Homo sapiens: one gene and its partners. The protein of the gene in region 4 interacts with the protein of the main gene of each other region in a biochemical or structural test. Each region holds a gene or a part of one and is shown on either strand. Other genes may lie near its edges. The genes, in order: PLCB2, CIB2, CD46, ARHGEF12, SLCO1B1, SH2D3C and ABCA1.

The links.
Region 1: the proteins of ARHGEF12 (region 4) and PLCB2 interact in a test that uses a peptide from one of them, tested with the Homo sapiens proteins (one large-scale study listed by IntAct).
Region 2: the proteins of ARHGEF12 (region 4) and CIB2 interact in a test that uses a peptide from one of them, tested with the Homo sapiens proteins (one large-scale study listed by IntAct).
Region 3: the proteins of ARHGEF12 (region 4) and CD46 interact in a test that uses a peptide from one of them, tested with the Homo sapiens proteins (one large-scale study listed by IntAct).
Region 5: the proteins of ARHGEF12 (region 4) and SLCO1B1 interact in a test that uses a peptide from one of them, tested with the Homo sapiens proteins (one large-scale study listed by IntAct).
Region 6: the proteins of ARHGEF12 (region 4) and SH2D3C interact in a test that uses a peptide from one of them, tested with the Homo sapiens proteins (one large-scale study listed by IntAct).
Region 7: the proteins of ARHGEF12 (region 4) and ABCA1 interact in a test that uses a peptide from one of them, tested with the Homo sapiens proteins (one large-scale study listed by IntAct).

What each region holds. Positions count from the first base shown.
Region 1 is NC_000015.10:40,297,733-40,301,918, forward strand, and holds part of PLCB2 (1-phosphatidylinositol 4,5-bisphosphate phosphodiesterase beta-2), read right to left. Parts: intron 3,878-4,186; coding exon of another isoform or gene 3,860-3,877; exon of another isoform or gene 2,935-3,859; intron 1,743-2,934; coding exon of another isoform or gene 1,677-1,742; exon of another isoform or gene 1,514-1,676; intron 1,497-1,513; coding exon 1,396-1,496; intron 1,233-1,395; coding exon 1,066-1,232; intron 977-1,065; coding exon 830-976; intron 649-829; coding exon 491-648; intron 228-490; coding exon 145-227; intron 1-144. UniProt on the Homo sapiens protein: The production of the second messenger molecules diacylglycerol (DAG) and inositol 1,4,5-trisphosphate (IP3) is mediated by activated phosphatidylinositol-specific phospholipase C enzymes.
Region 2 is NC_000015.10:78,120,959-78,125,144, reverse strand, and holds part of CIB2 (calcium and integrin-binding family member 2), read left to right. Parts: intron 1-1,405; coding exon 1,406-1,440; intron 1,441-4,186. UniProt on the Homo sapiens protein: Calcium- and integrin-binding protein that plays a role in intracellular calcium homeostasis. Acts as an auxiliary subunit of the sensory mechanoelectrical transduction (MET) channel in hair cells.
Region 3 is NC_000001.11:207,754,647-207,758,832, reverse strand, and holds part of CD46 (membrane cofactor protein isoform 3 precursor), read right to left. Parts: intron 1,820-4,186; coding exon 1,631-1,819; intron 1,294-1,630; coding exon 1,191-1,293; intron 1-1,190. UniProt on the Homo sapiens protein: Acts as a cofactor for complement factor I, a serine protease which protects autologous cells against complement-mediated injury by cleaving C3b and C4b deposited on host tissue.
Region 4 is NC_000011.10:120,472,090-120,476,275, reverse strand, and holds part of ARHGEF12 (rho guanine nucleotide exchange factor 12), read right to left. Parts: intron 3,227-4,186; coding exon 3,149-3,226; intron 1,717-3,148; coding exon 1,641-1,716; intron 937-1,640; coding exon 769-936; intron 1-768. UniProt on the Homo sapiens protein: May play a role in the regulation of RhoA GTPase by guanine nucleotide-binding alpha-12 (GNA12) and alpha-13 (GNA13). Acts as guanine nucleotide exchange factor (GEF) for RhoA GTPase and may act as GTPase-activating protein (GAP) for GNA12 and GNA13.
Region 5 is NC_000012.12:21,175,926-21,180,111, reverse strand, and holds part of SLCO1B1 (solute carrier organic anion transporter family member 1B1), read right to left. Parts: intron 3,337-4,186; coding exon 3,215-3,336; intron 1,537-3,214; coding exon 1,390-1,536; intron 1,191-1,389; coding exon 1,092-1,190; intron 1-1,091. UniProt on the Homo sapiens protein: Mediates the Na(+)-independent uptake of organic anions.
Region 6 is NC_000009.12:127,775,867-127,780,145, forward strand, and holds the start of SH2D3C (SH2 domain-containing protein 3C), read right to left. Parts: upstream 2,801-4,279; 5' UTR 2,762-2,800; coding exon 2,725-2,761; intron 2,066-2,724; exon of another isoform or gene 675-2,065; intron 1-674. UniProt on the Homo sapiens protein: Acts as an adapter protein that mediates cell signaling pathways involved in cellular functions such as cell adhesion and migration, tissue organization, and the regulation of the immune response.
Region 7 is NC_000009.12:104,784,734-104,788,919, forward strand, and holds part of ABCA1 (phospholipid-transporting ATPase ABCA1), read right to left. Parts: exon of another isoform or gene 3,835-4,186; coding exon 3,693-3,834; exon of another isoform or gene 3,322-3,692; coding exon 3,187-3,321; exon of another isoform or gene 2,884-3,186; intron 2,244-2,883; coding exon 2,140-2,243; intron 1,658-2,139; coding exon 1,565-1,657; intron 907-1,564; coding exon 663-906; intron 1-662. UniProt on the Homo sapiens protein: Catalyzes the translocation of specific phospholipids from the cytoplasmic to the extracellular/lumenal leaflet of membrane coupled to the hydrolysis of ATP.

The DNA of each region.
Region 1 (4,186 bases), on a different chromosome or scaffold from region 4:
ACATGAGGCCTTAGGGTGATTATACTGAGACGTGGGAGAAGCTGTAGGCAATGGTTAGAGGCTGGGGCAGTTGTGGGGAGGACAGTTGCAGACAGGAGACTGGGGGCTGGGTGAGAATGTGGCTGAATGGGCCTGGATACGCACGAGTCCACATGGTTCTCAAACGACAGGATGATGGGATAGGGGGAGGTCTTAAAGGCGCTTTCTGCAATAGCCTCAATTGCTTCCTGGAGGAGAAGGAGACTCCATGAACAGAAGGTCAGCGTTCCGACTGCCTGTCTCGTGATAGCACTTTTCCCCCCTGCCTAGTTTCAATACACACATATAACTGCATGGCCGCCATTGGCCCCCAATCCCTGCTGGTCCCCAATGGTCTGAGGCCTTCCAGCCATTCATCTTCTCTAGCTTCAGCCCTCCAACCCCTCAAAGCTTCTGGCCCAGAGCCCTTCCCTACTGCCACGGCCACCAGCCTCTGTGCCCAGGGTCTCACTTTGAAGAAGATGTCTGTGGTCATGGTGAAGCCATGGGTGATAATGGGCTCCTCGTCAGGGGGTTTCCCCTTCCAGCAGTCTAGCTCCACGCAACGGCAGCCAGAGAGCAGCACCTGGCGGTACATCTCAGCCGAGGAGAGGCCTGAGAACTGGCCGGCTGAGCCAGAGGATGGGGAAGAGGTGAGGGCATCACCCAAAGGCAGCCCAGCTCTCCCCCTACCGCCACTCCATCATGGTCTGTGTTATTCTCAGGGCCAGCAGCATGTGGGCAACCCCTGTGGAGGATGCAGGGAACCCCTGTGAAAGCAGAGGTTGGCACCAATGTTATCAGGGCCCACCTGTCAGGTAGGTGTTGTGGGACGAGTTGATGAAGTAATGATTGAGTGGCTGCGTCATGTCGTGGTGGAGCAGCAGCTTGTCCTGGGCCAGCACGCTGTTCTCTGGCCCACAGAGAAACCAGACCATGCCTTCAGGTGACAGCTGGCCTGGGGGACAGGAGATAGCTGTCAGGCTACAACCCCGCTGCCAAGGCAGGACAGGACCACAGGGGACAAGGGGTTCCCTTAGTCCTCACCCCTCTGTGCATTGATGCCACTGGGCTCATACTTGTCGATGAGGCCCTGCACCTGGTCAGGCCGTGCTGGCGGGAACAGCAGGGAGTTAAGCCGGGAGTCCCGCTGTTTCTGGTTGATGAATTTGGTCAGGTGCTCCTTCGTCATGTAGGGTTTGGCCTTAGCATGGCTTCAAGCCAGAGAGAAGAGCACAGGTCCATATCCCTTGGGCCTGGAGGCTTAGACAACCCCCTTGTCCAGTGAAGCCTCCTGACTCCCGGCATGGCAGGTGGGAGGAGGGGATTGTTAGCCACCACCCTTTTCCCATGACCAGCACAACCCAAGAAACTCACTAAGAAGTGAAGATCTCATCTATTTCTGGCCGAGGACAGAGGCTCATGAGGAAACTCTTGTAGACAGGTTCTGGGAAGTCCTCAGGATTGATGGCGTCATTCTAGGGGCATAGTAACCTTATTGCCCCTGCCCTCACCTTCTCAGAGCTAAGAACCACAAACTCGGCCCAGCCCTGGTCAAGGGGACCTGGTCAGAAGGCGGGCTCAAGGCAGACAGAAGAACTTCAAGGACACCCAAGCATCCACTTCTCAAGGCCCTGGTTGCTGAGCAGAGAGCATGCTTAGCTGGTTTGCTCTGACCCTGATTTTGTACAGTGGCTATTCCATTGGCTGGGGCAGGATCGGAACTAAGAATAACCAGAATGAGGTAGAAAAGAGGTCAGAAGAAATGATGCTGCTTGCCAGGCTAGTAGGCTATCTTTTTTAAGTGGAGGACAAATATTCAAAAAGAAGCAATTTGAATATAAACATATATGCACCTAACAACAGAACCCCATAATATATAAAACAAAAACTGATAGAATTGAAAGGAGGACAATTCAACAATAATATTTGGAGACACCAAAAGCACCGGGACAAAGAAAGATAAATTAAACGTCATCAAAATTAAAAACTTTTGTGCTTCAAAGGACACCATCAAGAAAGTGAAAAGGTAACCCACAGAATGGGATAAAATATTTGCAAATCAGATATCCGATAAGAGATAAGTCAACAAAAAGACAACCCAGTTGAAAGATGGACAATGGATTTGGACAGGTATTTCTCCAAAGAAGATATATAAGTGACTAATAAACACAGAAAAGGTGCTCAATATAATTTGTAGTTAGAGACATGCAAATCAAAACCACAATGAGATACCACTCCCACTAGGATGGCTAAAACAAAAAACAGACAATCACAAGTGTCAGCGGGATGTGACTAACCTAAAACCCCACACAGCACTTTGGGAGGCCGAGGAGGGTGGATCACCTGAGGTCAGGAGTTCGAGACCAGCCTGGCCAACATGGTGAAACCCCATCTCTACTAAAAATACAAAAATTAGCCCAGCATGGTGGCACATGCTTGTAATCCCAGCTACTTGGGAGGCTGAGGCAGGAGAATTGCTTGAACCTGGGAGGCAGAGGTTGCAGTGAACTGAGATCACGCCACTGCACTCCAGCCCGGGCAACAGAGTGAGACTCTGTCTCAAAAATAAATAAATAAATCCCTACACAATGCTCTCACTTTAGAAAACAGTTTGGCGGTTTCTCAAATTGTTAAATATAGAGTGACCACATGACCCAACAATTCCACCCCTGGGTATATACCCAAGAGAATTTACACATGTTCACACAAAATCATGTACATGAATATTCATAACCAAAAAGTACAAAAAACCCAAACATCTACCAACTGATAAACAGATGAACAAAATGTGGTATATCCATACAATGGAATATTATTAGGTGGTAAAAAGGAATGAAGTACTCATGCATGCTACAACATGGATAAACCTTGAAAACATTATGAGAAATGAATACAGCCTGACATCGAAAAGCATATATTTATGATTTCATTTACTTTACCACCAGAATAGGCAAATCTATAGAAATAGAAATGAAAAGTACATTTGTGGTATTCAGGGATTCTGCACCTTTGCATTCCTTCCCCCCCCAAAAAAAACATTAAATGTCTTTCAGAATCACACTGGAAGGCCAACATCAGTCTTAGTTTGGAGCAGAGGGTCTGAGCAGGAGAGTCTAACTGGATCTCCCCAAACCCCTCCCTGTCTCTGGAGCTTCAGCTCCAAGCAAAGTTGGGTCAGTAGCCTCTACTGAGACACAAGGAAAGCAGATAGATAAGGAGGACTTAGCCAAGGGAGGAGCTCAGGCAGCAGGAGAGAGGGAGGGTGGATGTGTGCTGACCACAGGTAAGTGTTGCTGGCTGTAGGGGAGCCGCAGGAGCCCATTCCTACCTCTCCCCAACGCCACATTTGGATCCCTGTGACTGACTGCATCAAGGAGTCACCAACTCTGCAGAGCTGTGGCTGTGGGGTAAATGCTCCTCCTGGGATTCATGTGGGCAGGTGATCAATGGGGGTCGTGGTTTTATTTATTTATAACGTTCCAAATTCTTACCAGGAGAAAATACTCCATGGGGTATAGGCTGGGACCCACACAAGAGCACTGGCCAAGCAGGGACAGGGGCTGAGATTCGCTCCATTGGCCAGGCTTGAAGCCTAGCTCAGGGCCATATCAGCCCAGAGGGCTCCTTTTTGTAATTCACACAAGTTGCTTCATGGGGTGACCCTGCTTACAACTTGTAATTAAAAATTAATTATTTAACTAAAAAGACAGGGAAAAATGCTTTTCTGTACAGAGCAGAAGTCTGCATCTTGGCAGCTTCCGCCTTTGGTTCAGTTCCTCTCCCTCGACACGCTGCAGACTTCCAGATCCCTGCAGACTGCCGCCTGCCACTGCCGACCTTATCTCGCTCCTCCAGGCTGAAAACATTCACGCTCAGCTCCCATTCCCAACACTAGACTGGGAATGCATGCCGTTTCTGCTGCCTGCCCTGAACACAGTCCATCAACCACAGCCCCAGCGCCCCCACCACCCAGGGTAGGGGATACAGACAAACCTGCTTGGAGCTCAGGGTCTCACTCCCTTGCCCTGGCTCCACCCCTGTGCCTAGTGTCAGTAACCAGCAGCTCCAGGGTTGATTGGCTCTCCAGGCTCTTGGCTGGGGCTGTGATGTCACCTCTGCTCCCCCACCCACCATTCCTGGCCAAGTTGCTTTCTGGTGGGGACAA
Region 2 (4,186 bases), on a different chromosome or scaffold from region 4:
TCCCCAGCCTGAGCCTTTCTGGGCTCCTACAGAGGAACCACTGTCAAAAGCAAAGCTGAGACCCCCAGGAGAACCCCTCGTGTTTCCAAGAAGCCAGCATGGATCCTTAGTCTAACTCCCAGGGAGCAGCAGCTTAGAAGGACAGACTTGTTGGGCCAAATGGGGCCTGGAAATTCCCACCAGCTCTCCCCTTTTCAGCTCTCCCGAAGGCACCCAGTGGAAACCCCAGATGTTGTGTGCATCCTGCAGGCGTCCTCTCTTTGGGCCTCTTAACACGCAATCCAATTGCCCTGATGTCCAGCGGCTTCAGGTCTCATTCAGGGCAAGCCTGGCTGTTTGCAGGCCTGAGTTTCAGCCATTCACTCCTCATCAGAGCTGGCTCTGGTCAGCTTATGGCCCCAGGAGGCCCTATGGGCTCTGGGCTCTGCAGACCTAGGAGGCCTTCTTGCTTCATGCTGTAACAGTGGACAAAGGCGGAGGAGCTAAACAGCAGGGGAGGTGCACAAAAGCCCTTTACGGTTGGGCATTTTACAAAGTGCTGGGTCCTCTTCACCTCTATACTTTTCACCAAGGGCTGGCATAGTGGCCATTGTCACTGACTCCCAGTGGTTGATACTCACCTTGGGCAGGCCAAGCTGTGGATAGAGGCAGTTCATCTAAACAAAGACAGGACCCCTCCGAGATGAGTTTGTCATCTGGATGGCCCTAGGAGCCAAGTGCTGCCCCCCACCTGGAGTAATGCTTACCTGGGGATCCCCAGCAGCCCCTACCCTCACCTCTACCCCAGATGCTACCTGGTTCCCCCTGCCCACGTTTCTCCCTCCCATATCTCCCTGGCCTCTTCACTCCCTTCTCTGGGTGACCTCATCCCTTTCTGGCTTCAGACACCAAGTATATACTGATGCTTCCCCAGTCTATGTGCCTGGAACTCTCAGTCTCTGAGCCTGGGACTGCACAACCCCCCTAGCACCATGCTCAGGGCTACAGTGAGGATGGCACCCCATGCAGCTACACGAGGTGGCCCTGTGGGTCCTCATTCGGAGTTGTCTCCCAGCCACCTCCCTGTCATCCCCCAGTGTATCCCACTGGCACTCAAATCAGCCACGCATACCTGTGAGCATTCATCTTCCTCCTACATGTGTACCCTAAAGCATGCTACAGCCCCCCACCATGCACTAAGCTCCTTAGGCCTAGCCCAGGATGGATAAAGGTTTTGGGAGGCATTTTCTATACCTACTAGAGCCAGCTGTCCCCAGTGGGTGAGGGCAAGGTGGAAAGGGATAGTAGTGACTCTTCTGTCCCCAGTCCGGAGCTATCCCCTGTGAGCCCTGTGGCATCGAGGCCTCTGAGGAAGAAAGTCTGGGAGCCGCACACTGACTGTGTGTTGTGTGTTTTCCCTCAACAGGACTGCACCTTCTTCAATAAGAAGGACATCCTCAAGTAAGTGTGGCTTCTCGTTCACCCTGTTGGGACTGGGACTGGGGCCGGGGTGAGGCTGGGGCACCCCACATGGGCTGGCTGTGCTCCTGGGGCTGAGGCAGAGCATCAGCATGTATCAGGAGCCACATTCAGGTCCCCACTCGGCCACTGGGCTAGGATGGAGTTAGAGCTTCCCACTCCTCCCAGGGCCCAGATCCTCCTGCTGGGGAATGAACATCTACTTACTATGAGCTTTCAGGTGGGTAGTTTCCGGCACATTCTTATTTAATCCTCATTGTGACCTTGTAACAAGAGAATCCATTTATCCCCATTTGACAGATGGAGCTTAGCAACTTGGCTAAAGTCACAGAGCCAGGGACTCAAGACCCAGCCTCTGACTCCAGGTCCCTTGCTATTTCACTGCATCCTGGGTCCTGGTATAGCAGGGAGTCCCTGTCTGTTAGACCAGGGGTCCCTAAGGGCCCTTTGGCTCTAGCTTTGATGTTCTTCCACTCCTAGGACGTCTAAAAGTTGAGGGCATGGCCACCACCCCTGAGCTATTCATCAGGGCTCTGCTTCTTCCCAGGACAGCCCTTCTCCTTGGTGTTGATGGGGGTGGGGGTGGACCTGGATGGGAAAGATAAAGGGGATCGGCAGCCTCAGAACCCCAGGACCAGTGGGTGAGCAGGAATCACTGAATACCAAGAAAACTGCCCCACGGGCCTCACTAGGCCCCTCTGCCTGGGTGGCACTAAAAGCCAGCAAAGTCCCAGGATCACTTGCCCTGGAGATCGATGGTCAGGCTGGGACCAGAGCCCATTGCAGCTTCCCAAGAGAGCTGTGCTGCAGCTTGTCACTGCCCTAACCATTCTGCTCATTCAGGCAGTGCCTCTCGGCTTTCCTCTCTACCCAGGCTGCTATTCCAACCTGTCACCTGCATGGGCAGGGGATACCCCACTTCCACCACCTTAGAGAGTCTGAGCAAGGGGCAAAGCCTCCAGGCCTGGCATCAGTAGACCTGGCATCTGTGGCCTTGGGCAACCATTTGACCTTCCCTGAGCCTCAGTTTTCTTCTGTATAATAGGGATAGTGAAACCTACCCTCATAGCATTGCCGAGAGGCAGCAACACTGGGGTATAGTGTTTGATAAGTGGGATTTGCCCTGTAGCTTGAGAGATGTCAGGGGTGAGGTCCCCATTTCGACAGGATGGCTCTCGGTATTGGAATAACAAAGCTGTCACCCCTGGCATTCTTGTGGCACCTTTTACCTTTCAGAGTTCTTGGCATGGAGCCTCATTTGAGCCTCACAGGGAGCTTCGGGTTCCCTACCTTTGTAGATGCCAAGCCCAAGCTGCCTGTCTTCTGAGGCCCACGGCCATTTTCATTCTGGCAACAAAAGCCCCTTGCCTCGGCCTTTGCACTGGCTATCTCCACTCCCTGGAGTGTCCTTCGCCTCTCCTCTGCCCACAGCATTGCTATGCATCCTTCCAGACCCAACTCCAGAATCATCTCCTTTATAAGCACCCCCAACACCCTGCCACCCTAGTGCTATCCCAGCTGCTCTAACAGCCTGTTAGGGGCTCCTTGGGTTCCTGGACCCAGGGGCCCAGCTCCCCACCAGACTTGTGATCAGGCAGGACTAACAGGGAGCATGGCACCTGTTAGCCACCAGTGACCATATGAAGAGTGTGTGGGTGAAAGACAGGTAGGATTGGCTGAGGGAGAACATTCCAGGCTGGGGAGCAGCAGAGGTGAGACACAGGCCAGCTTCTCCTGCTCCCACTCCCACCCCCATCCTCCCGTGGTCTCATTGACAGCAGCAAGATTGCCTGTGTGGGGAAGAGGAGAGAGGAGCTTGAAGGCCAGTCCGGGAATCCGATCCAATATGATGGGCCTTTGGTGGTTGTTTTAGTCCATTCTCATGCTGCTATAAAGAACTGCCTGAGACTGGGTAATTTATAAAGGAAAGAGGTTTAATTGATTCATGGCTCCACATGGCTGGGGAGGCCTCAGGAAACTTACAATCATGGCAGAAGGGGAGGCAAACACATCCTTCCTCACATGGCGGCAGGAAAGAGAAGTGCTGGGCAAAGGGGGAGAAGCCCCTTATAAAACCATCAGATCTCGTGAGAACTCACTATCATGAGAACAGCCTCGGGGTAACTGCCCCCATGATTCAATTACCTCCCACCAGGTCCCTCCCATGACACGTAGGGATTATGGGAACTACAATTCAAGATGAGATTTGGGTAGGGACACAGCCAAACCATATCAGGGGTATCCCTGGCCCCTTGGAAAATGAGGGGCTCCAGGCAGGTGAGAGGGCTTGAGGAGAGGCGTCCTGGCTCCCCACAGCCCTGGCCTGCACCCCTCTGCACGCATCAGGACCCTAGGCTCTGTAATTCAACACCAGAGCAAAACCCAAGCCTGAGGCCCCGTCTGCAGCATGGGGATGACATTGCTTGCAGGAGCTGTTTTCTCACAGGCCCCTGTGTCTGGGAGGGCTGGGTGATGGTGTTATTAAACATGAAAAGAGCTACCTGGAGTTTGCTGCCCACCTGTCCACCCTCAGGGAAGGGTAGTTAAGACAAGACAGATTCGGGATTGCCTGTCCCTAGAGGGAACAGGCATGGCCATGATGGCTCAATTCCAGTTTCACCCCCCTTCGCTTTTCTCCAGCCTTCTCTGTGGAGAGGCCAGCATGACTGACTGCCCCTCCAGGAGAGCCCTCTCCACTGTTCACATCTCAGGTCCGGGTGACAAAACT
Region 3 (4,186 bases), on a different chromosome or scaffold from region 4:
TTAAAGTTTTGGTATCCCTCGGTGTGCCTAGCAAGCAGTATGTGTCAACTGAATATTCCAATATTTCTACTTGACCAAATTTTAAAAACTGTCAGTTGCCTTACATAGTCACAGCTGATTTTTCCTCCAAGACTCACTTACTTTTTCTATATTATGGTGTGTTACTGCTATTGTTTGAATCTGGTTTGTCTCTACCAAAACTCATATTGAAATTTAATTGCCAGTGTAACAGCATTGAGAGGTGGTGGGGCCTTTAAGAAATGACTAGGTCATTAAGAGGTATAATGCCTTTCTAGAGGGTCTTCATTAATTCTTCAGGGAATGAGTTCTCATTCTTGTAGGCTTGGATTCATTACCATAAGAGCACGTTGTTATAAAGCGAGAACCCCCTCCCTTGTGCTTTGTCTTTTTTGCACATGCTAAATTTCCCTTTCACTTTCCAGCATGTTATGATGCAGCACAAAAGCCCTTGCCAGACACTACTGCCATCCCCTTGAACTCTCCAGCCTCCAGAAATATGAGCCAAATACATTTCTTTTCTTTATAAATGCCTAGCCTCAAGTATTCTGTTATAGCAGAATACTTACATTTACTCTATAAATGCACATTTATCTTAAATGTCTAGTATCTCCAATATATACAACTTCAAAACCCTACAGAACAAAGGCTATTACCGAGGGCTCAGTACCTGCTCTTGAGATGCTTCACACTGTAGCAGTCTCAAAAATAAGGTTTTTCAACTGAGAGATTTTGATCAACATGATGGTAAAGGCTAACCGCGTCAGTTTTGGTCTGATAACACTTTACAGAGTCATCTGGATACAAGTGTATCTTTAGTTGGCAATTCTATTTCTCATTTTTGTGAGCCCTACTTCAACTCTAAGAGTTGGCAGATTTAAATAGGGGACACTCAGTTGTGAAGGACAAATTCTCATGATTACTACATTCTTAATGCTTACAACAGACTTATTGTCAGAAACAGCAAGTAGTTTTGCTTTCCTTAAATATCAATTACTTTCTATTTACTATATATCTTGCCTATCTCCATAAAACATCCAAGAGTTGTTTGGCTAGAAGTATAACTTGTCACATAGAAAGCAAAATTAAGTTTACAGGAATGCTTAAGAAGAGAAGCAAAACAAAAATAAAATTACTAACACTTCCCTTATTTCCTCTAAGGAGCAACTTACCCCTCATTACAAATAAAGTGCATCTGATAACCAAACTCGTAAGTCCCATTTGCAGGGACTGCTTGGCCATTTAAAGGATCCCGTATATATGGACATGTTTCTCCTGAAAGAAAATAATTTTGATAGTTTTCAATCCAGTTATAAAACAGATCTGAATCAAAATCAAAATTCTGCAGTGCTCTTTTGAATGGGTGGGAATATAATTTTCATTATTTACTTATTATAAGGGCAAACTTAAGATTCATATTCACCCAGGCAATCTATTGCCAGGAAAATGATTTCTTGGAGATTTTGATTTCTCAAAGCTTGCAAAAATGCATTGTTATCTTGAACCTCATTTTACAAGAAGAAAATCATCATCACCGTAGTGGAATATGTACCCCAAAATGTATGCAAATCTCTAGAGCAAGCAGAAAAAAAAAAGAGGTTTGTTTACTTACTATAACAGGCGTCATCTGAGACAGGTAGCCATGTATGATTCCGATCACAAATAGTATGGGTGGCAAGAGGAGGTATATAGAAGTATCCTTTTTTACACTTATAATCTACTCGTTCACCAATCTCATAGTAGGGTTTTGGTTTACCAATGAGCTCCATAGCTTCAAATGTTGGTGGCTCCTCACAGGCATCTAGGGATAAGAGAATAGGAACATGAAGATGAAGTACTGATATCACTTTCATCAGCCATGGACTGTGGTCTGGCAGCAGGTAGTACAGAAAAAACAGAAAGGCCCTTGGCAAGATTTTAAATGACTGTTCCATGCTTTTACCTGAGTGCTCATAGCAGTGGAGGAAATGGGACTTGCATGTTTTAAGTAACATCCTATTAGCTTTTGGTTTGTTTGGGAATAAACATTCGACAATAAACTGAAGAGACAGCATTAATGTCTTTGATCTTAAAATATATATGGATGCATCTTTCCCCACATTTTTCTAAATTCATTTCAAAAGTAACTTCTCCTCTAAGAAGTCTTCTACAGTATAGAGTACTCTGCTCAGATTGTTCTTCCATAGTTTAAAACACTAACTTATAACAGCTTGTCACTTCAGGGTGTCTTCTCTTAAAAGGCAAGTTCCTGGGGGTCAAGAACCATGTTCTTCTTTTTCTACTATACTCACCTTGTGGGTGCACAAGAAATGCTGACACTGACAAACTCTATCTGCAAATAAGTATTCAAGAAATTGTCTGCTACCGTGCCTGGGAAAATCAAAACAACCCTAGTTTGGATTCATGTTGTGCTAAGTCAAACAAAAGGCTCAAGTTGCCCTAAAAGGACAGGTAATAACGTGAAAGTCTGAATTTATGATGGTGAGTGTTTACTCCTGATGAGTCTGTTGCTTTTCAGAATTACTCACCCTGTGATTTAATCCTCTTCCTTCTTTCTTGCCTCCTTTGCCCTACTCTGCCACACTGAATAGCTTGGCAGTCCAGTAGTGTCACATCTTGGTGCCTTTGCTCACCTTGCTTCCTCTGCTCTGAATACCCTTCCTCCCTGGCTGGTAGCTACAACTCCTGCTCAACTCATCTTCCTTAATCCACCCATCATCTCCTCCAGGAAGCATTTTCTGCCTCCCCCTGGGAAGCAGTGATCAGTCACCTTCCCCTGGACTCTCCCCTGCATGGATCTCTCAGGTAACTATCACATGCTTTTGTGTTTAATAGTTAACAAGGCCAACTCCATTCATCCATGTGGCCACAACACCCAGCACAATATGTCACTCAGAGTAGCTATTCAAAAAAAATTTGGTATTCAAAATCCACTGCTGTCAAACACAAAACAATGTGAAGAATATATTGTAATCAATTTCATATTGAAAATAATCATTCTACAGCACAATGGAGAAAGAAGATTAGGCCATTTCTTGTGCTGCCTATCTCCCAGTCTTCTGGTATCCTGGCAGGTGACCAGATATGGACTGCTCTCTTTGCATTGTAGTATGCCCAGTAAGGAAACTGAGACGCTACTGTGTAAGTGCTTACTGATCTTGGCTTCTTTCACTGGAAATAAGGAAAACACCTAAAATAGGCAGAAGAGACCACGCACAACAGGAGATTGCGGGTTTTGTCCAAAAAAGCAGCTCCTCTTCTGGAGGAATGAGACTGGCCTGAAATTTGATACATGTTTCCTTCAACTATCTGGAACCATTTGGCAACTACCTTTGAGAGGGCAGGTCTCCCATGCACAGCACTGTCTGCTTACGAAACCTTCTCCTTGTGAGAGTGAGTTGCTCCAAAAATTGAATGTTTATTTTAATTCACGTATTCTCTCTGCCTAGCATCGTGACTTCTCATTTTTACTTTCTCTAGGTTTCATACCTGTCTTGATTTACCCTTATGAACCTCAAACTTAACCTTGCTTTTCCTTCTCTTCATTCTTAGTTTTGTTATTTTCCATGTTGCACCCTATTCATTTCATAATTCTATGTTCCTCTATTTCAAATCGCTTTCATTATCTTCTTCAGCTTCCTATTTTGTTTCTTTTTTTGTTTGTTTGTGTGTGTATGTGTGTGTGTTTTGTTTTGTTTTGAGACAGGGTCTCTTGCTCTGTTATCCAAGCTGGAGTATGATCAGGGCTCACTGCAGCCTTGACCATGAGGGGCTCCAGTGATCCTCCCCCTTCAGTCTCCCAAGTAGCTAGGACCACAGGCATGCAACATCACACCTGGCTAATTTTTTTTTTTTTTTTTTACATGTTTTGTATAGGTGAGGTCTGCTTATGCTGTCCAGGCTGAACTTCTAGCACTAAGCCTATTCTAAACATTAATCTTAAAAGAAAAAAAAAAAAGTCCTTTTGTTTTCTTCTTATCACCACTACTCCCTACTCCCATTACCCTCCTTCAAAATGAACGTTTTAATGATCAGTGAGATGCAAGACTGAAGTACTGGAAGCCCTGCAGAGTCAACAAATAGGGGAGACAGATCCTTTCTGGCTCTCAGCTGCCACTGCCCTAGCTTTTTAGGTACCGCAGAAAGACCATCCTGAGCATAGCTCTTT
Region 4 (4,186 bases):
GCATGGCGAAACCCTGCCTCTACATAAAACAAAAAAATTAGCCAGGTCATGGTGGTGCATGCCTGTAGTCCCAGCTACTCAGGAGGCTGAGGTTGAAGAATTGCTTGAGCCTGGGATGTGGAGGTTGCAGTGTGCCAAGGTTGTACCACTGCACTCCAGCCTGGGTGACAGGGTGGGACCCTCGTCTCAAAAGAAAAAAAATAAATAAATCCAAATTACCAGATTAAATGCTATTACTCTTTTGCATTTATTTTGAACTGCACTTTTGCTAAGTTGTTAGTTAATAATATTCAGTGAGTAGTGGAGAAAAGAGGTCACAAATTTATTTTGCCACCATGAAACTAACAAGTTTTAAAAGGGACCCCGTTGTTAATAGAGTTAAAATATAACTTGCCAGTCAAATTTGATTTTTAATCAACACTACATCCGTCTCTTTGGTTTTTGATTTTTTTCTCACCAAATCAAAAAACATACCACCCTAAATGAAAGGCTTTTCATTGGGATCTATCAATGATTTGAACATAAAGAACCAAAGTAATAGCATAAAAATTTTCAAATGCAGAAAACTGTTCACAGAATCGAGACACCCTAATAACTTTGGGGTATAAACTCTTAGGTCTCTTTCTAAGCAGTAAATTTCATGTAATTTGCTTAAGAATATAAAAATAGCAAGACTCTATGCCACTTGTGTTATTGAGACAGCACCGAGTATCTTATGCAACTTCACAATGAATCTGGAAATTAGTATCCTTCAGTGGACATACTTGCCTGTTGCCACTTGTCGAACCAACACTGTACTCAACTTAATGACAGGGCTAAACGTGTGTTTGCTATCAGCTGTAGATGCCAGAATCTTACTATGACACCTTAAAACCAGTCTATCATCCTGCTTTTGTAACAATACAAGAATGTCTTCCAGCAGCAACGTGTATAAATCTAGAAATAAAAGTGCAGAAAAAAATGGTAAGTACAGAAATGGAGACGCGTTTGATTAACTTTATAATGATTCAACAGAGGAATTCTATTTCTGTTAAAGCTACAAAATTTTAAAAATTGACTTGTATATTATCTTTTAAAATTTCATTTTCAGTAATTCATTTTTATTTTATTTCACTGAAGTGTCAGTCTGTGACCAATAGGAAATAAAAAACAACAAGCTGGGTGTGGTGCTGTGCGCCTATAGTCCCGGCTACTAGGGAGGCTAAGGCAGGAGGATCCCTTAAGCCCAGGAGTTCGAGGCAGCAGTGCACCATGACTGCATCTGTGACTAGCCACTGTGCTCCAGCCTGGGCAACATAGAAAGACCTTGTTTCTGAAAAAACAAAAACGGTTCCTCATCACAGACAGTTTAAGATGTACTGGTCTAAAGAAAGCTTACAAAGCATACAAAGACTCACTAGACTATAAGAATGATGGAAATAGGACTAAATCAGTTCTCCACTACATTCCTAAATGAATATTTAACACATCTTACATATAATGAAATAACACAAGCAGATCTACAAATGTACAAATAACACGAGGTAGCACTGCAAACTGCTGAGAGAATGGTTCTCTCCTCTTCCCTTTGTCATAGGAAACTTTCCTATTCCTTCCCTTTTGCCACTCTCCCCAAAACTAAAAGACAATATCAGACCTACCAATAGTTTTATCTCTATTCACCTTCCAAACCAATGGCCCTTCATGAATCATCTTCCTTTTTGTTAAATCCAAATTCTGGCAAAATAAAGAAAATCATGCACAAATAATTTCCAAGCACTCAGTAACATGATTATCTATATAATACAGTCTCTTTTAAAGAAATTCTTAATATAAAATACACCATTTACATTCAACTATCATTATTGCTATTTGTCAGTTCTTGAAAATGGCACAAAAGCCATATTAAAGTAATCTGCATACAATTTTCTAAAAAGGAAAAGGTATCTTGCAGAAGAACATTCAGGAGTACTATCTTCAAACCTCACTCTAAACAGATGATAACAGATTATGAAGATCAAGTTACAAACATTCAGTCACTAGATTCTCAACGTATCCTTTAATTTTCCTATGAATAACTGGATGAGCATGGTACATATGCTTGTCTATAAGAAAGTGGCTTCTGAGTTCCAAGGCTCTAATTTCAAAGAAAGTTCTAAGAAATAGTACTCATGAAAAGTCCAGGTACTACTCAGACTTGGTCTAAATATTAACAACTTATTAGTAAGAGAATCATCTTTTAGTATTAGCAGCTCTAGAAAACTCTCATTCTTTGGAAGCTAAGGGGAATAAGCACATTTACGTGCTTGTTGACGAAGTATTAATATATGACATAAAAGTCTATTTTAACAGCCACCAAATAAATCTGCCAAAACCACCACCTAGTGAAATGGTACAAAAACACTTAAAATCCGAAAAAGTTAACACATAAGCCCACATACTAGAAGTGGCAATTAGTAAACATTTTACTATCGTTCCTGTAATGGTTCCAACTTTTATGCTTCTGAAGAGCCTCATGAGAAAATAGTATGCTATCTTGTGTTATTAAATGATCTGGAAAGTTACCAAACAGTCCTACCCTTATTTAAACTACAGAACACAGGCTGGGCATAGTGGCTCATGCCTGTAATCCCTGCACTGTGGGAGGCTGAGAAAGGAGCACTTGAGCCCAGGAAATCTGGACCAACCTGACAACACAGCGAGACCTTGTCTTTACAAAACACAGAATTAGCTGGGTATGGTGGCATATACCTATAGTCCTAGCTGCTAGGGAGGCTGAGGTGGGTGGACTGCCTGAGTCCAGGAGGCCAAGGCTTCAGTGAGCCAAGACTGCACCACTGCATTCCAGCCTGGGCAACAGAGCAAGACCCTGTCTGAAACAAACTACAGAACACAATAAAATTAAATTTTATAATAATTAGTGTCCCTTAGTCTCCTGCCAATTGCTGTCATGTAATATTACAGTTTTATGCAAGATATTCCTCTAATGAAAAACTAATTTCATACAGATCAAGCATTTAAAAGGCAGCAAAAAAAATCATAAATACAGATAATCTACGATACAAGAACTCCTTCAGGTGACGTATATTCCCACTGAGATGTTAATTACCTGCCAGGTCTTTAGCAAATTTTATTTTATTTTTTAAATTATGATTAGACCATCTCTCACCCTGAGCTCTTCAACATTTGGGTACTCTGACAACTTCAGGCTGGAGGTATCAAGGCGACGCTGATAATCTTCTAGGCGCTGAAAATTAGGCAGGGTGGAACCAAGGTTAGTGCTTTGGTCATTAATGACCTCTCTATTTCTGAATCAAACTTGGCATTTAAAATCTCCATTTTGGCCAGGCGTGGTGGCTCACACCTGTAATCTCAGCACTTTGGGAGGCTGAGGCAGGTGGATCACGAGGTTAGGAGATCAAGACCATCCTGGCTAACACAGTGAAACCCCGTCTCTACTAAAAATAAAAAAAAATTAGCCGGGCATGGTGGCGGGCGCCTGTGGTCCCAGCTACTTGGGAGGCTGAGGCAGGGGAATGGTGCAAACCTGGGAGGCGGAGCTTGCAGTGAGCCGAGATCACGCCACTGCACTCCAGCCTGGGCGACACAGCAAGACTCCATCTCAAAAAAAAAAAATCTCCATTTTACTGAGCTCTTTGCAATGCTAGACAGGACTGAAAACTCACTCTCTTCCCGTGGCTTTGGTGATAATATACTCTCCTAGTTTTCCTCCTGCCTCTTTGGCTTTTCTTTCTCAATCTTCTTTTCAAAGTCATTGGTCTCTTATTAGCTTATATTTATTTTCTGAATATGTAAATCATGCACACAGTACAAAATTCAGATGGCTATATAAGGCAAAAAATAAAAAGTCTCCCTCTAACCTTGTCCTATTGCCCCACCCCCCTCAATTTTCCCTAAAGAAGCAATCACTAATATCCATTTCTTGGGTAGCCTTTGAGAAAAATTCTATGCAAACAGATATGTATTTATTTATATATGTATATATAAGTATGCTTGTCTTTGTGCATGTTGTGTGTATATGTCCTTTTTTAAAACAAGATATGGTAGCATAATATATTCATATATGCATTCCTTTGGTATTCCTATATGTATTCCTCATTGAAATGGTAGAATACATTCATATACGTATTCCCCCACGTGTGTGTGTGTGTGGTGTATGACTTATATCTTGGGGACTGTTCCACAT
Region 5 (4,186 bases), on a different chromosome or scaffold from region 4:
GAAAATGGATGAAGAAGCACTGGAAATATCAATTAACGCAAATGATAGAAATATACCCATTTACAAATCTATAGTAAAGTAGGTAGAAATTGATTGTGTTTCACTAATAACAGAAGCAGATTATACTGGATTTAGAAGTGGATGGGAGGTGAGAAGGTGAGATATCTTAGCTAATTTAGCTGATATTTTCCTAGGTGCTTGGTTCTAAAGAGGAATAAAAAAAGGATTCAGCTGGAAAGTTGTGTGGGGGTATAAAAAACTGTATCTACATATAAAGATGGGAAATACTTGGGTGTGTTTGCTGAATAAAAGAGAAGATGGAGATAAAGAAGCGGGAAGGGAGAATCTAAGCTCCAGCTAGATCTATCAACATTGGATACAGATGTATATATTTTCCACTGAGCTGCAAAAAAGAAAAAGAAGATAAAGATAGATATGGTGCAAGAATATTTTTAGGGAAAAGGGCCTGAAGTTGAGACAGTTTTTATAACATGGCATCTCTTTCATCTATGAGATAAGAAGGAAAGTATGCTCTGAGAATGAAGAAGAAAATCATAGATTTTATTTATGTGTCCTCTGCTTTATTCCTTTGTTCAACAAGTACTTACTGAACATTGCCATACGCCAAGCCCTCTGCTAGGACCAGGGAAAATGACCATAAAATACACAGTGAAGTCTCTCAAATGACTCCAGCCATAAATCAATGCAGCAGCCACAAGAAGACTTTAGCAAAGCAAACTTTAAGTTGTACACATCAACATCCAAGCCACCATCAACTGAAAAATAAAATTTACTTGACTGGACAGTCAGTTTGGGAGGGAGACATTTTACATTTGGTTATTTTGGACCAAGCTCATGAAAATAAATTTGTTTACATTCTCTCATTTTACACTTAGTTATAAAGATAGTATAAATAGGAGCTGGATTTTATATTTATTCTGATTAGTAATACATTTATTTCCTACTTGTAACTTTCTAATTATATTAAGCAAAGGACTATTGAAAGAGTGAATTCAGTTATTTGAAAAAATGTTTTTCGCATGTGTGCTTAGAAAGACGTTATCATGGTACCTTGTTCTGGTTGTACTTACTTAGATCTACATATCCAATATCCACGTACATTTTAGAAAACAGAGATCCCAGGGTAAAGCCAATGATTGGACCAATCATTGCTATTGCATTCAATATACCTGAAAATATTATAAAGCAATTTTACTAGATGCCAAGAATGCATGGTTCTTATTCACCATGTTTTTAAAAGAAATATGATACAATACATATACCCAAATATATGTTCTAATAGGTAAAATAATAAGTTTAGTAACTCTACTATTTCAAAAGTAGACAAAGGGAAAGTGATCATACAATTTAATATTTTGTGTACATTACCTAAATACAAAGAAGAATGTCCTTCTTTAGCGAAATCATCAATGTAAGAAAGCCCCAATGGTACTATGGGAGTCTCCCCTATTCCACGAAGCATATTACCCATGAACACATATATCCACATGTATGACCCAGATTCCTTTAAACAACCTATGTAGATAAGAGAGTGTTTCATTTTAAACATTAATTTTAGCATTTCTATTACAAATTTAACTACTTGTAAACTCTTAATTATTCTACTTATTTTTTTTTAATTTACAAGTACAAGTAATTTATATTCACTTTGCAAACTTTGACAATATGGTGTATTAGTCCATTCTTATGCTGCTAATAAATACATACCTGAGACTGGGTAATTTATAAAGGAAAAGGGTCTAATGGACTCATAGTTCCTCATGGCTGGGGGGCCTCACAATCATGGCGGAAGATGAAGGAAGAGCAAAGCCATGTCTTACATGGTGGCAGGCAAGAGAGCTTTTGCAGGGGAACTCTCATTTATAAAATCATCAGATCTTGTGAGACTTCTTCATTACCACGAGAACAGTATGGGGGAAACCGCCCCCAAAATTCAATTATCTCTACCTGGCCCCACTCTTGGCATGTGGAGATTATTACAATCAAGGTGATATTTGAGTGGGGACACAGTCAAGCCATATCATACAGAAAAGCACAAACAAGTAAAAATTATCTGTAATCACATTACACACAGAAGATCACCTCAAGCTTTTTTATATATCTTCTAGATTTGCACAAAACATATACATTATATTCATTATATCCATTATATATTTAAAAATCTAGTTCATATTGTTAAATGGTATACACAGTTAACACCATATTATAACAATTGTTCCATGTTGTTAAGATTTCTTTAATATCAAAACTTTAATGACTGGACAGTAATGTGCTGAATAAGTTTCCAAATGTGTTTATTCAGTATCTTATGTTTTAATTTCTTTTTTGTTGTTTTATTCTATTAGGTTTATCATGACTATAACTGTAAATAAGTCCTTTTGCAGTTTCCTGGTTATTTCCTTAAGATTAATCAATAATAGCAGAATTTCAGACTAAGTAGGTAAGTATATTTTTGTTCTTAACATATATTGATAATGAATCTCCAGAAAGATTTACAAACGTATACACTTCCAGCAATATATACAATGTGAAATCCTTTTTTGCCTCTACCTCGTCTCTATGTATTTTTAGTCTTTTTCTATTTAATAGGTTAAAAAAATCTTTAGCAGTACAATTTGCAATTATAATTTATAATTTGTGTTATAATAGGCAAAAAGTCTTTAAATGATATAATAGTTTGCCTTTTGCAATGAAAGCAAAGTTATATTATTTACATATTTATACCATTTCCTTCTGTTTTACTTTAATGCATATATTCTTTGTCAATTTCCTATTGAAAATATTCTCTTTTCTGATCTACTTCTAAATGCTTTTACATATAATACAGTCATCCCTTGGTATATTAAGGAATTTGTTACAGGGCTGCCTGTGTGTTCTCAAATTCATGCACACTTAAGTTCTGCAGTTGGCCCTGTTCAATCCAAATATAGAAAATGTCAGATATTCTTACCGGCAGGTTTATCATCCAGTTCAGATGGACAAAATTTGCATAGAAGTGAAAACGCGTAGTTTAAACCTGTGTTGTTAATGGGCGAACTGTGTATATTAACACTATAATTATGTCTGTAAGAGTCAAATGTTTTTCCTATTCATTCTTAATTAAATTTTGCTAATGAATATCACAACAATTTTTAGAGATGTAATTAAATGTATACATTTTAGAAGACTTTTTACTGTCAATATTAATTCTTACCTTTTCCCACTATCTCAGGTGATGCTCTATTGAGTGATAAAATTTGATTAATTAAACAAGTGGATAAGGTCGATGTTGAATTTTCTGATGAATTGATATTAGTTTCTTTAGAATACCTGTAACTGTAAGAACATCACTGAATTAAACATTTTGCTTATCTACTGAATATTTTCACTTTTCCTAGAAATACAGAGAAATATTCCCCTTTATTTGCACCATTATCTTCCCCAAATTACCAGAGTACTTTCTGTCAATTTCCCAGCATGTGTTTTAAGAGATGTGATGGGTAAAAGTGAAATGGAAGTGTCCAGCAAGAAAGATAATTCAATACACCCCAGGCTAAGTGGGTTATCACCTTGCTATTATCCTAGGAGTGGTTATATCTTGGTCAAGATATGAAATATCCTAGTTTCACCTTTTTAAAAAGTAATTATTAATTGTGTGTAACCATTCATCCTTTTGAATTATCTTCAAAGATGATCAGTCTGTCAGATTTTCTTTCATGGACACATATTCACACACACGCTCTAATGTATGACTCTTCAAAATGTAGTAAAAATAAAATCTAATCCATTTCAACTAGATGAGAGAAAACTTGATAGGAATAACAGAGATGTTAATATCCATAAATAATTAGGTACCACGTGAGCTCTAAAGGCAGCCTACTGTATTCCAGGCATTATGCTAAGCTTCAAAGAGCTAGAAATAAAACACACAGTTTTTGTACTTAGGGAATTTCACACTAGTATAAACATAGATGATAAAAGTTATAAGTTTAATATATAAGGTCCTGAGTTGTCACAAAGACAAAGGATATGATCAACTTTGCTTGGAGGTTGCGGGAATAGATCAGAGAAGACATCAACATGAGAATGACAGGTAAAACGAATCTGGAAGATGAATAGAAGGGTAGACAAAGAAACAAAGGTATTCAAGGCTGTAGAAATACCAGGTGCAAAAGTGTCACATATT
Region 6 (4,279 bases), on a different chromosome or scaffold from region 4:
CACCCAGGCTGGAGTGCAGTGGTGCAATCCTGGCTCACTGCAACCTCCACCTTCTGGGTTCAAGCGATTCTCCTGCCTCAGCCTCCCGAGTAACTGGGATTACAGGCACGTGCCACCACGCCCAACTGGTTTTTGTATTTTTAGTACAGACAGGGTTTCACCATGTTGGCCAGGCTAGTCTCAAACTCCTGACCTCAAGGGATCCACCCACCTCGGCCTCCCAAAGTGTTGGGATTACAGGGGTAAGACACCGTGCCTGGCCACTAATAATAATAATTTAAAAATTTCTGAAAATGATTCTGCATCTGCCAAATGTGCTGCATGAATTCTCAGCATAACTCAGTGACACAGTTTAATCCCCATTTTCCAGATGCGAAAATTGAGATTCAGAGCAGTGTAATGAACCGAGCTCACACCGCTGGTAGGTGGAGCAGGTGTGCGTGTTTTGTGCTCATGTAGGGGGTTGGGGAGTGTTCCAGCCAGCCTCTGTGCACCTGGGGTGGGGGTGGAATGAGGAGGGGGTTGTTGTGAGCCTGAGGGTCGCACTGTCTGTGGTTCTCTCCTTCCTGTCAGCTGAGCCCAGCTCCAGACTCAAGAGGAACGGCTGGGGTGATACCATCTCCTGGTTTCTGCGGGGGTGTATGTGAGTTCCCTCCCCCTGCCCCCAGCTGTGGGACTGTCCCTTCTCACAGCCACCACCAACTGACTTCCCCACAGCCTCCAGATGAGCAAAAAGGTAAAACTCCGGCATTTTCCACATCCTCAGCATCCTCCACCTCCTCAGCTGTTCGCACCCGTGCTGGGATGCAGGTAGGATGCCCCCAGTTGACAAGGGAGGAAACTGAGGCCCAGCAATGGGGAGGGACTCCCCCAGGGTCACACAGCAAGGCCATGGCTGAGCCTGGACACAGGCCCAGGGCTCAGCACAGCTGGGTCAGTGCTCAGGGGTTTGCTTCCCAGCCCTGCCGGCCCTATTTGGTTATTGCCTTGGTCTCCTGAGAAACGTGTCGGCAAATGTGGCCGCTCTGCTGCATGCGGTGGGGGTGGAAATTGAATCAGTGGCCAGAGGGAGGACCCCCAACTGCCTTCTTTCTCAGCACCACTGGTTTTGCCTCCTGGGCACCAGACGTTTGGAGGAGATAGTGGGGGCTGGGAGGGAAACTGAGGCCCAGAGTCCAGGGTCTGGGATTGGGCCCTGCTCAATAGCCCGTGTGACCTCAAGCAAGTCTCTGGGCCTCAGCGTTGCCATCTGGGAAATGCAGTCATAATCGCCTCAGCATTGCCATCTGGGAAATGCAGTCACAATCACTGCCCTTTACGCCACATGTCCCCCACCCTGGTGGGGTCAGATCAAAGGAATCAGGAGACAGAAAAAGTTTGCTGGGACTGGGAAGGACAGACACAGGAAAACAGAGCAGTGGGCAAGTGTGGCCCCTCACCGTGGAGCCTGATTCTAGTACCTCTGTGCTCTTTCCCCACCCAAGTATTGGGTCCCAGCCTCACTGCTGTTGGGAATGTGAGACAGCATCCCATGACACCCCCATCCCCCTGCCGCCCCAGTAACTCCCCACCTGGGATCCCATGATGCCCCCATCCCCCTGCCGCCCCAGTAACTCCCCACCTGGGATCCCATGATGCCCCCATCCCCCTGCTGCCCCAGTAACTCCCCACCTGGGATCCCATGACGCCCCCATCCCTCTGCTGCCCCAGTAACTCCCCACCTGAGATCCCATGTGAGCCCAGGCCTGCGGGCAGGGGATGGAGTGTGCGAATGCCTCCCCTGCCCGGCCGCAAGGTCAGAGACAGCCAGAGACACAGTGGACTGCAGAGATCGAGAGACGCGGTGGGGAGACAAAGAGACGGATAAAGAGAAGCACAGAGATGGAGAACGAAGTCAGTCAGAGAGACAGAGATGCTGGGCCAGAGTGACAGCCAGAAAGCCACGGGATGCCCAGAAGCAGAGACGTCTGCAGAGAGACAGTGATGGACAAAGAGAAACAGAAACAAGGCGGGAAACAGGAGGATCGCTTGAGCCCAGGAGATCGAGACCAGCCTGGGCAACAAAGTGAGAACCCACCCCGGTCTCTAAAAAAAAAAAAAAATCAGTTTTATTTTACTTTATTTATTTACTTATTTTTTGAGATGCAGTCTCGCTGTGTCGCCCAGACTGGAGTGCAGTGGTGCAATCTCTGCTCACTGCTATCTCCACCTCCTGGGTTCAAGCGTTTCTTCTGCCTCAGCCTCCTGAGTAGCTGGGATTACAGGTGCGTGTCACCATACCCAGCTAATTTTTTGTATTTTTAGTAGAGAGGGGTTTCACCATGTTGGCCAGGCTGGTCTCGAACTCCTGACCTCAGGTGATCCACCAGCCTCGGCCTCCCAAAGTGCTGGGATTACAGGCGTGAGCCACCACTGCACCTGGCCAAAAAAAAAAAAAAAGATTTAATTGTGCCTGGAGTCCTAGCTACTTGCCTAGCTTCTTAGGAGGCTGAGGTGGGAGGATCACTTGAGCCTGGGAAGTCAAGGCTGCAGTGAGCCGAGATTGTGCCACTGCACTCCAGCCTGGGTGACAGAGACGCTGGTGTCCAAAAGCAAAAAACAAAAAAAGAAAAAGAGTGAGAGAGAGAAAAACAGAAATGAGACAGTGATGAAGAAACAGATGCAGAGAGAGGCCCAGAGGAGAGCCAGGGATGGAGGACAGTGCAGACGGCACCCCACACTCACTGAACTTTTTGCTGGTCTTCTTGGTCCCCTCTGTCATCTTGGCAAATTGTGTGAAGCCCTTGGCCAGCTTGCGAGTGGCCACTCAAGGCTCGGGACATCAAAGTTGAGGTGCCTCTCCCACCTCCCCTTCCCCTTTCTCTTACTCGCTTCCTCTGTGTATTTTTAAACCAGTGAAACTCCCACAGCTCCACCCTCCCCACCCTCTCCGCAGGGGGCGGGGGCTGGGGCCTCTCCTAGCCCCAGCCCCTGTGGGCCGCCTCCTTGGCCTCAGCAGCAGGGGCAGGGGCCAGACCGCAAGCCCCTGGGACCTGGAAGGTCTAAGGAGCAGGCCGCAGGCTCTGGGAACGGAGCCCAGTGGGCTGGGGGCCGCTGGGGACCTGCCAACAGCTGTCAGGGGGCCTGGCCATCAGGCTGGGAAGGTGAGGGGAGTCAGGCCTGTGTGCAGGGCAGTTGCTTCTCAGCCTCTGTACCCAGGAGAGGGACTGGCAGCTGCAGATGGGAGAGTGCTGTGGTCAGGCCTGTGGACTCTGGGCCCCCCAGACCCAAGTTCCACTCTTGGCTGGCCATTTCGCCACGGTGTGACGTCCTCCCTGTGAACCGGGGGTACTCGCAGTGCCCACTTCATCGGGTTCAGCCATGGGTGTAGGGCCTGGCACAGAATCGGTGCCTACCAAAGCACAGTCACCACTTTCCAAGCTATCAGGGAGATGTCATCATGTGTTCCACTGTACTCACTGGACAGAGATGATGAAACCGAGGCACAGAGAGGCAGAGGGATTTCCCCAGGTAACACAGCTGGTTGCTGGCCCAGACTGGGCCACAACTCTCCCTTCTAGGCCCCTTAACCCACGGGCTGGTGCCTTTCCACCCTACAAACTTGCCATGTGTGCATGCTCAGGTGGGCAGACCGAGATGAGGAAATGCAACCTCCCCTCCACGGGTCATCCTGGACATCTGCAAAGGGTGTCAGCAGCTGCTGGGGCTGGGGGCGGGGCCCAAGACCCAGGGCTGCCAATCCCAGCTACTTCCACCTCCCAAGCCTCAGTCACCTGATTTCTAGAATGGGGAGAAGTGGGAGGTATGCAGCCAACCTGCCAACCAGTGGGGGTTCAACATTTTATCCTGGACCCCAGGCTGGCAACCCAGGCTGTGAGAGGAGTCCACTGCCATCTGATAGGGCACTTCCTGCATCCTCCATTAACAGTAACAGCCCCAGGGTGGGCGCGGTGGCTCACACCTGTAATCCCAGCATCTTGGGAGGCCGAGGTGGGTGGATCACCTGAGGTCAGGGGTTTGAGCACAGCCTGGCCAACATAGTGAAACCTCGTCTCTACTAAAAATACATTTTAAAAAATTAGCCGGGTGTGGTGGTGTGCAACTGCATTCCCAGCTACTCGGGAGGCTGAGGCAGGAGAATTGAACCAGGGAGGCGGAGGTTGCAGTGAGCCGAGATCGCGCCACTGCACTCCAGCCTGGCGAAAGAGGGAGACCCTATCTCAAAAAAAAAAAAAAAAAAGCAGAGGCAGACACTGGACAGACTGACAACCAAGTGTCC
Region 7 (4,186 bases), on a different chromosome or scaffold from region 4:
CCTGGGTTCGAGCAATTCTCCTGCCTCAGCCTCGCAAGTAGCTGGGACTACAAGTGCGCACCACCATGCCCAGCTAATTTTTGTATTTTTAGTAGAGACGGGGTTTCACCCTGTTGGCCAGGATTATCTGGATCTCCTGACCTCATGATCTGCCTGCTCCTCAGCCTCCCAAAGTGCTGGGATTACAGGCATGAGCCACCACGCCCGGCCAAAAACTGACTTTCTATATCGCCCCCCACCCCTACATCACCAACTGCTCAGTCATCCATTTACTTTGGCACATACGGTCTTGATTAAAGGGAAGAGGGAAGAAAATATTTACTGAGTACTTCTTAAGTGTCAGGACCTATTTGGTACTTTTTTATCTAATTTAAATAGGATTAGGCACCAAGTAAAATGCCTGGCCCATGGTAGGTGCTCACTAAATGGTAGTTTTTATGGTTATTATTACAGTAAATTCTCACAATAATCCTATAGAGTACATAGGCATCATCTCCCTTTTCAGGTTCAGAGAGGTTTAGTAAAAAGCATAGCTAGGAATAGTAGATCAGGAATTCAAGCACCAATTCAAGATACAAACTGCTCTTGGACCTATGGGCGGGAGTGTCGGGGCAGGAATCCACACCCTGAGAAGTAAATCTGTTTTGACACTCAAAGCTTACTTGGTCAAGTGTTGTCTGAGAAACAGAGTAGTCTTCTATGTGGAGTCGCTTTTTGCTCTGGGAGAGGATGCTGAATATCCTGGCCAGAGAAGATAATGAAGATGGAAGCTGGTATTGTAGCATGTTCCGGTGTTTCTCTTTTAGAACACTTCCAGGAAATGCAAGTCCAAAGAAATCCTGGACAGGCTTCAGGTCCGGGTTGGACCCTGCTATTCGTACAACTATTGTATAACCATCTCCAAACCTGAAAGCAGGAAAAAATACCCAAATGGAGGATCTCCAGAAAACTATTTAAAAGAATACTGAACCCTGGGAACCCAACTTGTGCCATGAAAAAGGGCGGCCCCTGGCAGGCCCAGAAATAAGTTTCTGAGAGAAGGAACCAGTTATCATTTACTAAATACTTATTTTATGTGAAGCACCATGCCATGTGCTGTAAATACATGATCTCCTTTAATCCTCACCTGGACCCATGAAGTCTGACAGATGTTACAGAGAAACTGAGGCCCAGGGAGTTAGTCACTTGCCCATGGCTCAGAGCTCATAATTGGTAGGGCCAGGATGCAAACCCATTTGTGTTTGACTCCAAAGCTTGCGCTCTCACCAGTACTGGCACATGTAAATTTTTTTCATTTCATCTATAGCACAAAGCTAGGAGGTAGATCTTCCAGGGAAACTAACTCTTACAGTAGTTAAGTCACTTGCCCAAGAGTCACAGAACCAGTAAATGGTAAAGACAGAATTTGAATGCAGTTCGGACTTCAAAGCCCTCATTCTTTCCACTATACTGTTTTGCTCAGTTTTATTTCCCTTTATGTTAGAGGCACCATTTATATACTCACAAAAGAATAAATATCAAGCCTTCTCACTAGGCACTATCCCAAAGAAATTATCTTTATTACCTATTTTTTAGATGCTGGACACTGCCAAGGCACCTGAACCTTCCATTGACCATGATTGCCATCCTAGTGCAAAGAGCTTCACATTCTTCCATACTGCGGTAAAACAGAAAGAGGTTTTAGTTTTAGAGAGATTCTCTGTAACCATGAGAACATCACCATGACTTCCAGCATTCCAGCTTCCTAGGGAATTGTATTCTGTTACAAGTACATGTGGATATAGGGATGATGCTGTTCAGTGTAGTGGTGTTTACAATTGTGAACAAGTTGGAAATAATCCAAATGTCTACAAAAGGGGGAATAGTTAAATAAGAGTATATCCTAATGGAATACTATCCAGCTATAAGAAATGACACCTAAATGCACTGACTTGGAATAATGTTTACAATATATTAAGTGAAAAAGAGCAGTATTTATACTGGGCTTGCATTTTTGTAAGAATATGCATATATAATTTCAGGTAATAATTGTTTTACTCTTTGCTTTTCTGTATTTTCTAATTTTTACAAAATGATCGCATATTCTACTTGGAAAGTTAAAACATCCCACAGTGAGGAACCCAAGACTTTACTACGGACCTATGAGATGTAAGCACTACTGATCTCCCCTCCTTGACAACACTTAGGGCACAATTCCACAAGAACCGCCGGGCTTTGGGATCCATGCCTGTGGTGGGTTCATCCTGTAATTAGAATAAAATAAGTCTTATTTGCTGGGGGGAAAAAAAATCAAAGATAAATTTGTTTTTAAATGCAGAAGCATCTTTGAAACAGCTTAAATTTTAACTTGCCATTCTAGTTATTTCTTGATGAATCAAAGAATTAGAGTAACTTTCAAATTCATTTGTAAACAAGGTCATTATTATAAATGTCTTATTGATGCAGGAAACTCAAATATTCTGAGTACTTTTTTATGTAATTAAATTTCTCCAAATAAATAGGGAAGGAAAAAGGCCATTTAGTTGTAATTATCTTTTCATGACTGATAAGTATATACAAAACAACTTTTTGTCTGAAACCTCTATTGAAGTCAGTATAAGATTGGGGTGAAATTCCTTTTTTTTTTTAATTCCAGCTCACTCAGATTACCCTAGTATATTGCAACTGTTAGCCTTACAGAAACAAATTCCAGACCGAGGTGGAATACATAAAAGCCTCAAAGGCTTCTTCCCGTAATAACATCAATGCTCTTATCTACAGAAGAAAAAAGGTCAAGGGCCACTTCCCAGTCTGATCTGTTTTTCATCTATCCGTGTGTAAGGAACTATGACCTAGTTGCTACCTTGGGGATTTTAAAGCTGTGTCCACACTCTTCATTTTCAGGGAATGAACACAAAGATGATTAGAAAGAATGTTCCAGAGAAAGATCAAATCACATATCCAGCCTCAATCACGCTAAGAAACAAAGTGCTTGGAGTGCCTCTATTTGGGAGCATCTGCAGGCATGGTACAGCCACCCCAGTGTGTGCCAAGGGAGAAGCTTCCCTCTGCTTTTCCAAGGTTGCTCTGCTGTCCCTGGGGGAAGACAAGCCAATCATACAACAGCCCTGGACATATAGGACTTTTGAACAGTCATGTTTTCCACTCAGGCCAGAACAACAGTTTTCCATCCACAGTTATACTCACCAGAAACACCACAGGAGGCCCGCCGATCAAAGCCATGGCTGTAGAGAGCTTGCGTTTGTTGCCTCCACTATAGTTACCAGCATATTTTTCTCCATACTTCACGAGGCCCAGTTTCCGAATCGCCCACTCACCAACCTACAGTGATAAAAAGCACCTTGACTTTGGTCTGGCTTGGGAATTTTATCATGCTGTCCTACACATACATGTATGAAAGTTCTTTCACTGAGTAGGACTAGATTCTATAATCATAACCTGACAACTGGTGAGGAGCCAAAGCAGGGAGAAGGGACTCGTGTGGTGGGAGCAGCACTCCCTCTCTGCCCACCCAGCCCTGCCCCACCACCGTTACAGGTTTCCACCCTGAAAGCAGATACAAAGAACCAGCATTTTGTGCTGCTGCATTCATGAGGAAAAACAGCCTGAAGTCAATGCGTGTGGAAAAGCCATAAGGTATATATTGTCAGGATGCCAAAGGAGACAGGCTGGCTTTCAGGTGCCCACAGTACCTTGCCAACTTCTTTCTCTGGGACTCCTCTCAAAAGGGCAAAGAACTCCACGTGTTCTCTCCCAGTCAACAGCTCTGTGATGGCATCAAACTGAGGGCAGTAGCCCATGTTCTGATGTACTTCATGGATGTTTGATAAGATACTGCAAAGGACAAGAAAACTACTTAGATTTTAAGCAGGTAGAGATACTCTGGTTAGACAATCTGGCCTAATGTTCCTGTAAAGTATGCTTCTCCATTACAAAGATACCAATACATCTGCTGCTACTTGAAAGCACAGCCTTTCTGCCCCCAGGATGCTAGCTCTTCCTGGCAGGCAGGGTTCCTGCCTCTACCCTCCCCAGTCCTTGCACCTCCCTGGCTCTCTGAACACTTCAGTCTGCAGGTGCAGTCCCATTTCAGAATTTCTGAGGTCATGCCAACCACTGCACATTCTTTACCAACAATCTCAGTCACACTACCCCAGGGCTTTAACGCTAAGGCCCCATCCTAGAC